Homo sapiens: one gene and its partner. The protein of the gene in region 1 interacts with the protein of each later gene in a pairwise test. Each region holds a gene or a part of one and is shown in the gene's direction. Other genes may lie near its edges.

Region 1 (3,082 bases):
TGTTGTCACCCCAGAGAGCATGGGCTTGGCTTTCTGCTGAGGTCCCTCTCTTATCCTGGGATCACTGGTGTCACGGAGTGGGAGGCCTTGGTCTGAGGGGGCTGCACCCAGGTCAGTAGAGGGAGGGTCCCAGGCTCTGCCAGGAGTTGAGGTGAGGACCAAGCAGGCTCCGCATCCAGGACACATGGGTTCCAATGAATTTCGACATCTTTTGCTGTCGTTCTTCGGAAGACCTAGGCACAGGTGGCCAGATGTGGGGTTTCTTAGGTCCTGTTCCCTCTCAGGCATGTGAGCTCTTGATCTGAGTTTCTCAGGCCAGCAAAAGAGTGGGATCCAGGCCCTGCCTGGAGAAATGTGAGGGCCCTGAGTGAACACAGTGGGGATCATCCACTCCATGAGAGTGGGGACCTCACAGAGTCCAGCCTACCCTCTTGATGGCACTGAGGGACCGGGGCTGTGCTTACAGTCTGCACCCTAAGGGCCCATGGATTCCTCTCCTAGGAGCTCCAGGAACAAGGCAGTGAGGCCTTGGTCTGAGACAGTGTCCTCAGGTTACAGAGCAGAGGATGCACAGGCTGTGCCAGCAGTGAATGTTTGCCCTGAATGCACACCAAGGGCCCCACCTGCCACAAGACACATAGGACTCCAAAGAGTCTGGCCTCACCTCCCTACCATCAATCCTGCAGAATCGACCTCTGCTGGCCGGCTATACCCTGAGGTGCTCTCTCACTTCCTCCTTCAGGTTCTGAGCAGACAGGCCAACCGGAGGACAGGATTCCCTGGAGGCCACAGAGGAGCACCAAGGAGAAGATCTGTAAGTAAGCCTTTGTTAGAGCCTCTAAGATTTGGTTCTCAGCTGAGGTCTCTCACATGCTCCCTCTCTCCGTAGGCCTGTGGGTCCCCATTGCCCAGCTTTTGCCTGCACTCTTGCCTGCTGCCCTGACCAGAGTCATCATGTCTTCTGAGCAGAAGAGTCAGCACTGCAAGCCTGAGGAAGGCGTTGAGGCCCAAGAAGAGGCCCTGGGCCTGGTGGGTGCACAGGCTCCTACTACTGAGGAGCAGGAGGCTGCTGTCTCCTCCTCCTCTCCTCTGGTCCCTGGCACCCTGGAGGAAGTGCCTGCTGCTGAGTCAGCAGGTCCTCCCCAGAGTCCTCAGGGAGCCTCTGCCTTACCCACTACCATCAGCTTCACTTGCTGGAGGCAACCCAATGAGGGTTCCAGCAGCCAAGAAGAGGAGGGGCCAAGCACCTCGCCTGACGCAGAGTCCTTGTTCCGAGAAGCACTCAGTAACAAGGTGGATGAGTTGGCTCATTTTCTGCTCCGCAAGTATCGAGCCAAGGAGCTGGTCACAAAGGCAGAAATGCTGGAGAGAGTCATCAAAAATTACAAGCGCTGCTTTCCTGTGATCTTCGGCAAAGCCTCCGAGTCCCTGAAGATGATCTTTGGCATTGACGTGAAGGAAGTGGACCCCGCCAGCAACACCTACACCCTTGTCACCTGCCTGGGCCTTTCCTATGATGGCCTGCTGGGTAATAATCAGATCTTTCCCAAGACAGGCCTTCTGATAATCGTCCTGGGCACAATTGCAATGGAGGGCGACAGCGCCTCTGAGGAGGAAATCTGGGAGGAGCTGGGTGTGATGGGGGTGTATGATGGGAGGGAGCACACTGTCTATGGGGAGCCCAGGAAACTGCTCACCCAAGATTGGGTGCAGGAAAACTACCTGGAGTACCGGCAGGTACCCGGCAGTAATCCTGCGCGCTATGAGTTCCTGTGGGGTCCAAGGGCTCTGGCTGAAACCAGCTATGTGAAAGTCCTGGAGCATGTGGTCAGGGTCAATGCAAGAGTTCGCATTGCCTACCCATCCCTGCGTGAAGCAGCTTTGTTAGAGGAGGAAGAGGGAGTCTGAGCATGAGTTGCAGCCAGGGCTGTGGGGAAGGGGCAGGGCTGGGCCAGTGCATCTAACAGCCCTGTGCAGCAGCTTCCCTTGCCTCGTGTAACATGAGGCCCATTCTTCACTCTGTTTGAAGAAAATAGTCAGTGTTCTTAGTAGTGGGTTTCTATTTTGTTGGATGACTTGGAGATTTATCTCTGTTTCCTTTTACAATTGTTGAAATGTTCCTTTTAATGGATGGTTGAATTAACTTCAGCATCCAAGTTTATGAATCGTAGTTAACGTATATTGCTGTTAATATAGTTTAGGAGTAAGAGTCTTGTTTTTTATTCAGATTGGGAAATCCGTTCTATTTTGTGAATTTGGGACATAATAACAGCAGTGGAGTAAGTATTTAGAAGTGTGAATTCACCGTGAAATAGGTGAGATAAATTAAAAGATACTTAATTCCCGCCTTATGCCTCAGTCTATTCTGTAAAATTTAAAAAATATATATGCATACCTGGATTTCCTTGGCTTCGTGAATGTAAGAGAAATTAAATCTGAATAAATAATTCTTTCTGTTAACTGGCTCATTTCTTCTCTATGCACTGAGCATCTGCTCTGTGGAAGGCCCAGGATTAGTAGTGGAGATACTAGGGTAAGCCAGACACACACCTACCGATAGGGTATTAAGAGTCTAGGAGCGCGGTCATATAATTAAGGTGACAAGATGTCCTCTAAGATGTAGGGGAAAAGTAACGAGTGTGGGTATGGGGCTCCAGGTGAGAGTGGTCGGGTGTAAATTCCCTGTGTGGGGCCTTTTGGGCTTTGGGAAACTCCATTTTCTTCTGAGGGATCTGATTCTAATGAAGCTTGGTGGGTCCAGGGCCAGATTCTCAGAGGGAGAGGGAAAAGCCCAGATTGGAAAAGTGCTCTGAGCGGTTCCTTTGTGACAATGGATGAACAGAGAGGAGCCTCTACCTGGGGCAGGAATGGAAGGTGTCTTGCGCTTTTGTCCCAGTGTTGTTGAACACAGTGCATGAGCTAGGTGATGGACACCCGTTATTTGCAAGGGTTTCCTGTGAGATAAGTGTATGTCTCCCCCAAAAGGGAGACCCAGAAGCCACTGGCCAGGTGCTTTTCTACCTGGCTGGGAGAACCAGAACTGACTATTAAAAAGGCATTCTAATTAGGTTATCTCAAGTGC
Region 2 (7,190 bases), about 140 Mb from region 1:
GGCGTGGTGGCTCACGCCTGTAATCCCAGCACTTTGGGAGGCTGAGGGGGGCGGATCGCAAGGTCAGGAAATCGAGACCATCCTGGCTAACATGGTGAAACCCCGTCTCTACTAAAAATACAAAAAACTAGCCAGGCATAGTGGCGGGTGCCTGTAGTCCCAGCTACTTGGGAGGCTGAGGCAGGAGAACGGCGTGAACCCGAGAGGCGGAGCTTGCAGTGAGCCAAGATCGTGCCACTGTACTCCAGCCTGGGCGAAAGAGTGAGACTCCATCTCAAAAAATAAACGAATAAATAAAATAACGATAATAATAATAATCCTAAGCCCCCTCCCCACAATGAAGTAGCTGGTATACCCCAGGAGGGGGTCAATGGTCTAGACCATTGGATGCCCTGGTTGAAAGGCAGATGCTGAGTTGGTCAGTCTGGGGGTGGCAGCTGGGATTCTGCATTTCTAGTGAGCTCCCAGGGGATGCTGGCACTGCCAGTTCCGACCACATCTGTTATCCAACACTGCAGAGAAGCAAACTGGACCTCTCGCTCAGAGCCAGTTTGCACTCTGATGGTGAAGGGGTTCAAAAACAATGACCCTCCCCACACAAAAATACCAGATATGTCCGAGAGTACAAAGCCAGGAGTGGCGAATTCAGCCATCTATGTCAGGCTCCCTTCCAGAGCTCACTGGGCTTGGAGGAAAGCAGCAGCGGGAAGGGGTGAGAATATTCAGTGCCTCTGAAGCAAGAGACTTCCTAAGTCAGCGTTGCAAAGCCAGCTATCTAGGGGAAGAAGGCAGGTAAGTCTGCAATGAGGAGCTCAAATTCAGGCCCCATCAGATGAAGTCAGAGCTTTCTGGTCTCTCAGCATCATCAAGAAAAGTAGACTGTGTACAGCCACTGAGAAAGATGGTCCCTAGTCCAACCTGTTACCCTCCATCTACGCTGGGCAAGATTTGTACCCCTAGAAAAGTAAAGAGAATAACAGGGCAAAGTGGGCTCACAGAAAACAGATACAGCAGACTGGAAACCAAATACAACAGATAACAAAAGCACAGAGACACAGGAACCAGGACAACAAACTAAGGAAGTTGAAATAAGCTAAGACTCCCTACAGGATGGCATATATATACACACAATAAATGGCATGTTTAAGTTTACATGTTGTGTGAAAGAAGAGCATCTGTTTATTTGTCCCATTGATAATGTGCTTTTGATGCCATCGTACTGTAGTTTACTGGATCATTTCTATTGTGTCTTAAAATTGTCAGGAAAAGTAAGTTATTGTCCCATGGGGAGAACACAACTGTACAAAAGTAAACTGTAATTCATGGAAGGAAATGCATCCCCATCAGCATAGAAACTGCCCATCTTTGGCTGTTGGAGAATTATGAAAAGCTAAAAACTAACTTGTTATATGTGTACAAACCACATTGCTAGAACAAAATTTCATTCTTTTCCAATCTAGCTTGTGACAGAGAAGCATTCACCATTCAGTTTGTTTTTTTTTTTTTAAGCAAAGAGGAGTCTTCCATCTTATGCATAGAAGTGATGTTACTGAAAAGTGTAGAAAATAAGACTGATAAAAACATAATGTGAAGCATGTTTTCACATCTGTGGAGAGCTGAAGTACCTACGATTTCCCAATCTGTCTCTTCCACAATCGCTGTGAGGCTTTGCCATTTCGTCAAAATGGCATTGGGGCCTTTTTTCCTTTGAAAAATACTCTTTTTTGGCCGGGGGCGGTGGCTCACGTCTGTAATTCCAGCACTTTGGGAAGCCGAGGTGGGCAGATCACTAGGTCAGGAGTTCAAGACCAGCCTGGCCAACATGGTAAAACCCCATCTCTACTAAAAAATACAAAAATTAGCTGGGTGTGGTGGCTGGCGCCTGTAATCCCAGCTACTTGGGAGGCTGAGGCAGGAGAATCACTTGAACCCAGGAGGCTGAGGCTGCAGTGAGCAGAGATTGCGCCACCGTGCTCCAGCCTGGGTGACAGAGTGAGACTCTGTCTCATAAAAGAAGAAAGAAAAAAGAAAAATACTCTTTTTTAATTTAATGACTAAACAGAAATGTGAGGTGGTTACAATACCAAAAAAATAACAGTAACTCTGACATGTGTGCATCCATTTGTTTCCAGAGAATGGAAGGAAACTGGGAGGGAGAATTCTACAGACTCCAGGTGGGAAATACTGTCATACTTACTGTAGGTACCACAGCTATGTGTGTGCAATGCATCTATTATGGAATTGTGTTCCCAAAAATATATGTTGGAGTCCTCATCCCCGCTACCTCAGAATGTGACCTTATTTGGAAACAGGATTTTGTCAGAGGTAATCAAATTAAAATGTAGTTATTAGGGTGGTCCTTAGTCCAATAAGAATCGTGTTCTTATAAAAGGAGAAAATTTGGACACAGAGACACACACAGAGGGAAGACGATAGGACAAGATACAGGGAAAGGAAAGCAGGTTCAAGCTGAGGAGAAAGACCTGGAATAGGTCCTTTCCTCACAGCCCTCAGAAGGAATTAAGACTGCTGACATCTTGATCTAGGACTTCTGGCCTCCAGATCTGTGACACAATACACATCTGCTGTTTAGGTTACTTAGTCTGTGGTATATTACTATGGCAGCTGTAGTAAACTAATACAGAAACCACGAACGACTGTATTTGAGGCGCAAGTCCCTACCTAATTTGCTCATAAATTGCCTTCTCTGAAATCCCGTGTCCTCAAAGGGAAATCACGATTGCATTAAATGGGGGAAGCTCTCTTATAGTACCACCTCTAAGAACACATAATTTTATTGACTATATATTATGCACTGGTACTAAGGGCTTGGCCTGCCTCACCTCCTTTATCACCTCCATTTTACCCAGGAGGAAACAGACACAGGTGCACTTTGTCTATCATAGATAATAATTCTTGCTGAATCCAGGCATGCCCCTGTCCACTATGTCTGCACTAAACTAGAAATACACTCTCATGTTTACACCTTTTTTTTTTTGTCTTTTTCCCCTTTTGTGGAGAACAGGGTCTCGCTATATTGCCCAGGCAGTTCTTAAACTTCTGGGCTCAAACTATTCCCCCAACTCCCACTTCTGCCTCCCTAAGTACTGGGATTACAGGTGTGGGCCACTGCGCCCAGCACACCCTCACGTTTTTAAAGTCTTGAAATTCTCCTATTTCCGCTTCTCAAAAGGTCCAATCCTTTTCCTTAAACGTGAATATACCACATAAACGAACACGAAATAGAAACAGGGACAAAAAAGTATTTTTTTGACGATGGCAAACGGGAAAAAAAAAAAAGAAAGCTGTTTAGGTGGCATTTGAAAAGTTAAAAAAGAAAGAAAACTCAGAGCAGCCCAAAAGACAGATGATACCTAAGAAGGCACAACCAGCAAGACATGTTGACTGTTAGTATTATTTCAGCATCCTCCTTGAGCAGCTTGGCTTTGCTCTGGGACAATGCACCAGCCTGGGATGCTCAGAGATGCAGGCACGGAGGTTGTGCAGCCTCTCCGCACACTGCGCATGCGCGGCTGCCGGTTCAAGTCGCGGTCCAGGACCGCAAGGAGGCGGGCAAGCGAAACTGAGAAAAACCCACCCACGGTCCAGGGACTGGGGGCTCGGGCGAACCCACCCAGGGACCTCCTGACCAAGGCCATTTGTCTGCAACCTGATGGCTAGAAGTGATACCACCCTGAGCATCTTCAATCCCCTTTCCCCACTCTACAGCCCCTTGTACTGTCCCTCCTTCCTCATTCACACCCCTGATCCAAACTCAAGCACTGAATTTGTCCCCAGACGAGGGCCTCGGCTCTGCGCGGCCGCTGGCTGAGTAGCTTGGCCCGATTCCGGGTGTGAAGTGAGGAGGAATTGATGCGGGTAAACATACAGCGCCGGCCCGCGCCGCATCCCGGGTCTGCAGCTACAGCTGCGGCGAAAGCCCAAGGTGCGCGTGCGCGGAGCGCCACTAGGCAGCCCAGGACGCGCGGGCTCGGAGCCGGGCGAGGGGCCGCGGAAGGCGCGTGCGCAGAGCGACCCCGGGCGCGCGAGAAGGTCCTCAGTGCGCGTGCGCGGGGCGGGCGGGTGCGCGCGCACTTCCTCCTCGCCCCCACCCAGACCCAGAAGGCGCCACCATGGCGGCGCCCCCGCAGCCCGTCACCCACCTCATCTTTGACATGGACGGACTTCTTCTGGGTGGGTAGTGTGCAGCCGCCGCCTCCAGTAAGGGCGGTCTTGTGTGGGCGTGGGGACGGTCGGCGCGGGGTACGTCACGGCCTGGGGGCCGCGGCGGGGCGGTGTTCATGCAGGGACGCTCGGGCTCCCGCGCGCTCTGCCCCCGGCTGGCCCCGAAGTCGGGCGGCGGCCAGGAGCGCCCGCGGGCCCATGTCCGGGCTGGCGGGCGCGCGTGGCCGCGGCGTCTACGCGGCCCCAGCACCCGCTTCCGGTCGGCGGCCCGCGCGTGGGGCCGGAGCACGTGGGAGCAGTCCCTGGGGTCCACCGGGCGGGCGCGCGGCTCCGCGTCCTCTCCTCAGAGCGAGGCGCGGCGGGACCTCCGCGCTCTCTTTTCGGTTACGCATGCGTGCGACCTTGAGCGGTGCCCAGCCTCAGCTTCCCCGTCTGCAAAGTAGCCTGGAGGATACTTGCCTGCCTGCTCCAAGGTTGCTGCTGTGGGCGCACTTTGATGGTAGCATCCTGCATGGTAGCGGTTCTCTACCTGGCGGTTTTGCAGCCCTGAGGGCATCTGGCAATGGCGATGTCAGGAGACATTTTGGCTGTCACAGCTGGCGAGGAGTGATGGGGTCACTGGCATCTAGTGGAGTCCAGACCAGTGATACTGTTAAACTTCCCGCAGTGCACAGGAGTGCCCTATGCAACCATAAGGAATTATCCCGCGCCGTCAACAGTGTAGAGGCACAGAAGGTCCGTCAAGTGGCCTGGCTGCCTAGGGTGACCAGCACCGGGGACATCACCTGTGGGCTACTTGTAAATGTAGAAGCTGGGGCCCCACCCTACCCCTGCCCAATCAGAATCTGCATTTTAAGCGCGTGAACGTTTGAGAACAGCTGCTCTATCAATCCGAGGCATTAAGAAACCCTTGGCAGTGTACTAAGGTAGTCAGTCTTAGCACATGTGAACTTCACCAGCCAAGAGGAATTCAAGTAGAATTCAAAGAATAAAACCCTGTTTTTAACTCAAGACAGAACTATGCTGAGCTCTACCGAAAGCCTTGACACAGTTAACACTATGACACATAATCACCAGGAGGCTTCATATATCTATAAACATGTCTGCATACTCTTTGTAGACAGCTGACCTGCTTGGTTACGTATATCATTCCTTCATTTCAAAACCCTGCAAGTTAGGAGGAAGTATTTGCATGTCACTAATTAAAAAAAAAAAAAAAAAAAAAACCCTGCAGCTCAGAGAGGTAAAGCTACTTGCCCAAGGTCACACAGCTAATAAGCCAAGCTGAGAAACGATTCTGGATTGATCCAGTTCTAAATATAAATGATGTTGAGCTCATCTTAAATTGTGAATGTGACCTTGTTTCTGCTCATCATATTGCTGGGTAATTCCCTAGCAGTGTTTCCTTTTAAAAAGGCATGCAGAAACCATTCTCTTCATTTTATGAACACAGAGGTGTAAACTGATGAATTCCAAAGGAAAAAAAAAATCCCCGTAGAGGTCACTAATTGGAGCCAACGGTGTATGCAGCTACTAAATTTGAAATGACTCAATTTCAGAAAGCTTGTGGGATACATAGGTATAGTTTGTAGACATGAATTTTCCTACTCCGGTGGTCAAAAAGTTAAATTGTCAAATAAATTTCTTATCCTCTAATAAAGGTCCAGAGAACCTGTTCTGGGAGTCTCATGAATTTTAATACCAAACAAGATGTCTCATTAAAATTAAATTTATTAAACTTCTAAATGAGCTTGGTGCCTAATTCTGATTCTAGATTCACACATAGCCATGCCCTGAAGTGATGAATGTGACTTAAATGGCATTACAAGCATTGACCTCACATTGTTACCCAATCCTCTGATCTAGTCAGATAACCAAGAATTAGTGCTATTTGGAAAAATAAGCCCTGCTTCTTTTTATTCCCCCCCCTCATTTTCTGCCCATTTCCTCCTTTCCTGCCCTACCTCTTCTTTGAGGTGGTAAGGCCTTGCAAAACTTTCTTGGAAATATACCTTTGTTTATCCCATTCTTTCACCAAATGTGTAAATATAAAACACAGCTTTCCAAGATGTGCCACTTTAATTTAATCTACCAGATTATGCCTGCTGTCATTCTTTAGCACCTCACTTCAGTGTATCTGTTGTTTGCATAACAATATACTATCAATTTATAATGAGTTATTTTACAATAGGTCTGTTTTTCGGGAATTTTGAATGCATTTTTCTAGGAAGTTCTGTTTGTCTATGTAGCCCCAATACTTGCATACTTGGGGAAGTAAAATTGAAAACGAATAGTTTCATGGAGGATTGTTAACATTAGAGGAGAAGATTGTTTAATCAGAGGAGAATGAGGAAGTAAATGGAGATTTTAGAGGAAATGTTGACCAGGAAGAAAGCCAGGACACTTTCCCATGCTTTTGACATGCACGATGCTGTTAGTTGTCCTTTAAAAAAAAAAAAAAATACACTTCGGTTTCTGTTTCTCATGACCAAGGTAAGAGTCAGTTATGATTTAGGTAATATTAATAATTTTGGCTCTCAAATGCCATTCAGAGAAAGAGAGTAGGGGAGTGGGATTAGTTAAAAACTGGGATGATTTTGAAATAAGAAGATGACAATTATTAAACAGTATCTCAGCAGCTGGACAGGGAAGATTATTCTGTTTGTAAATAACTGAAATTAGGAACACAAAAGATGGTCCCAATTTCTTTAAAAGAGAAGACAGTTTGTTGTCCAGAGCAGTTCTGTCTCATAGAATTGAGCCAGGTAAAAATTTTGGGGAGCAATTTTTAATAAGTAAAAAGATACAGATGACATTGATTTGGATGATGTATGTTATGTAACCTAATGTATCAAAAATATTATTTAATACAAAGTCAGTATAAGAAAATCTTTGAAGTGTTTGACATTAATTTTGATACTAGGTCCTCAAAATCTGTGTGTGTTTTATACATACAACACATCTTAGTTTGAACTAGCCTCATTTCAGGCACTCTGTAGCCTCAT

Evidence for each region.
Region 2: the proteins of MAGEA4 (region 1) and PUDP interact in binary tests that used the Homo sapiens proteins (3 or more experiments, as listed by UniProt).

Annotation. Positions count from the first base shown.
Region 1 is NC_000023.11:151,922,711-151,925,792, forward strand, and holds the end of MAGEA4 (melanoma-associated antigen 4), read left to right. Parts: intron 1-501; exon of another isoform or gene 502-742; 5' UTR 743-814; intron 815-889; 5' UTR 890-954; coding exon 955-1,908; 3' UTR 1,909-2,460; downstream 2,461-3,082. UniProt on the Homo sapiens protein: Regulates cell proliferation through the inhibition of cell cycle arrest at the G1 phase. Also negatively regulates p53-mediated apoptosis.
Region 2 is NC_000023.11:7,145,057-7,152,246, reverse strand, and holds the start of PUDP (pseudouridine-5'-phosphatase), read left to right. Parts: upstream 1-4,093; 5' UTR 4,094-4,133; coding exon 4,134-4,194; exon of another isoform or gene 4,195-4,535; intron 4,536-4,644; exon of another isoform or gene 4,645-4,957; intron 4,958-7,190. UniProt on the Homo sapiens protein: Dephosphorylates pseudouridine 5'-phosphate, a potential intermediate in rRNA degradation. Pseudouridine is then excreted intact in urine.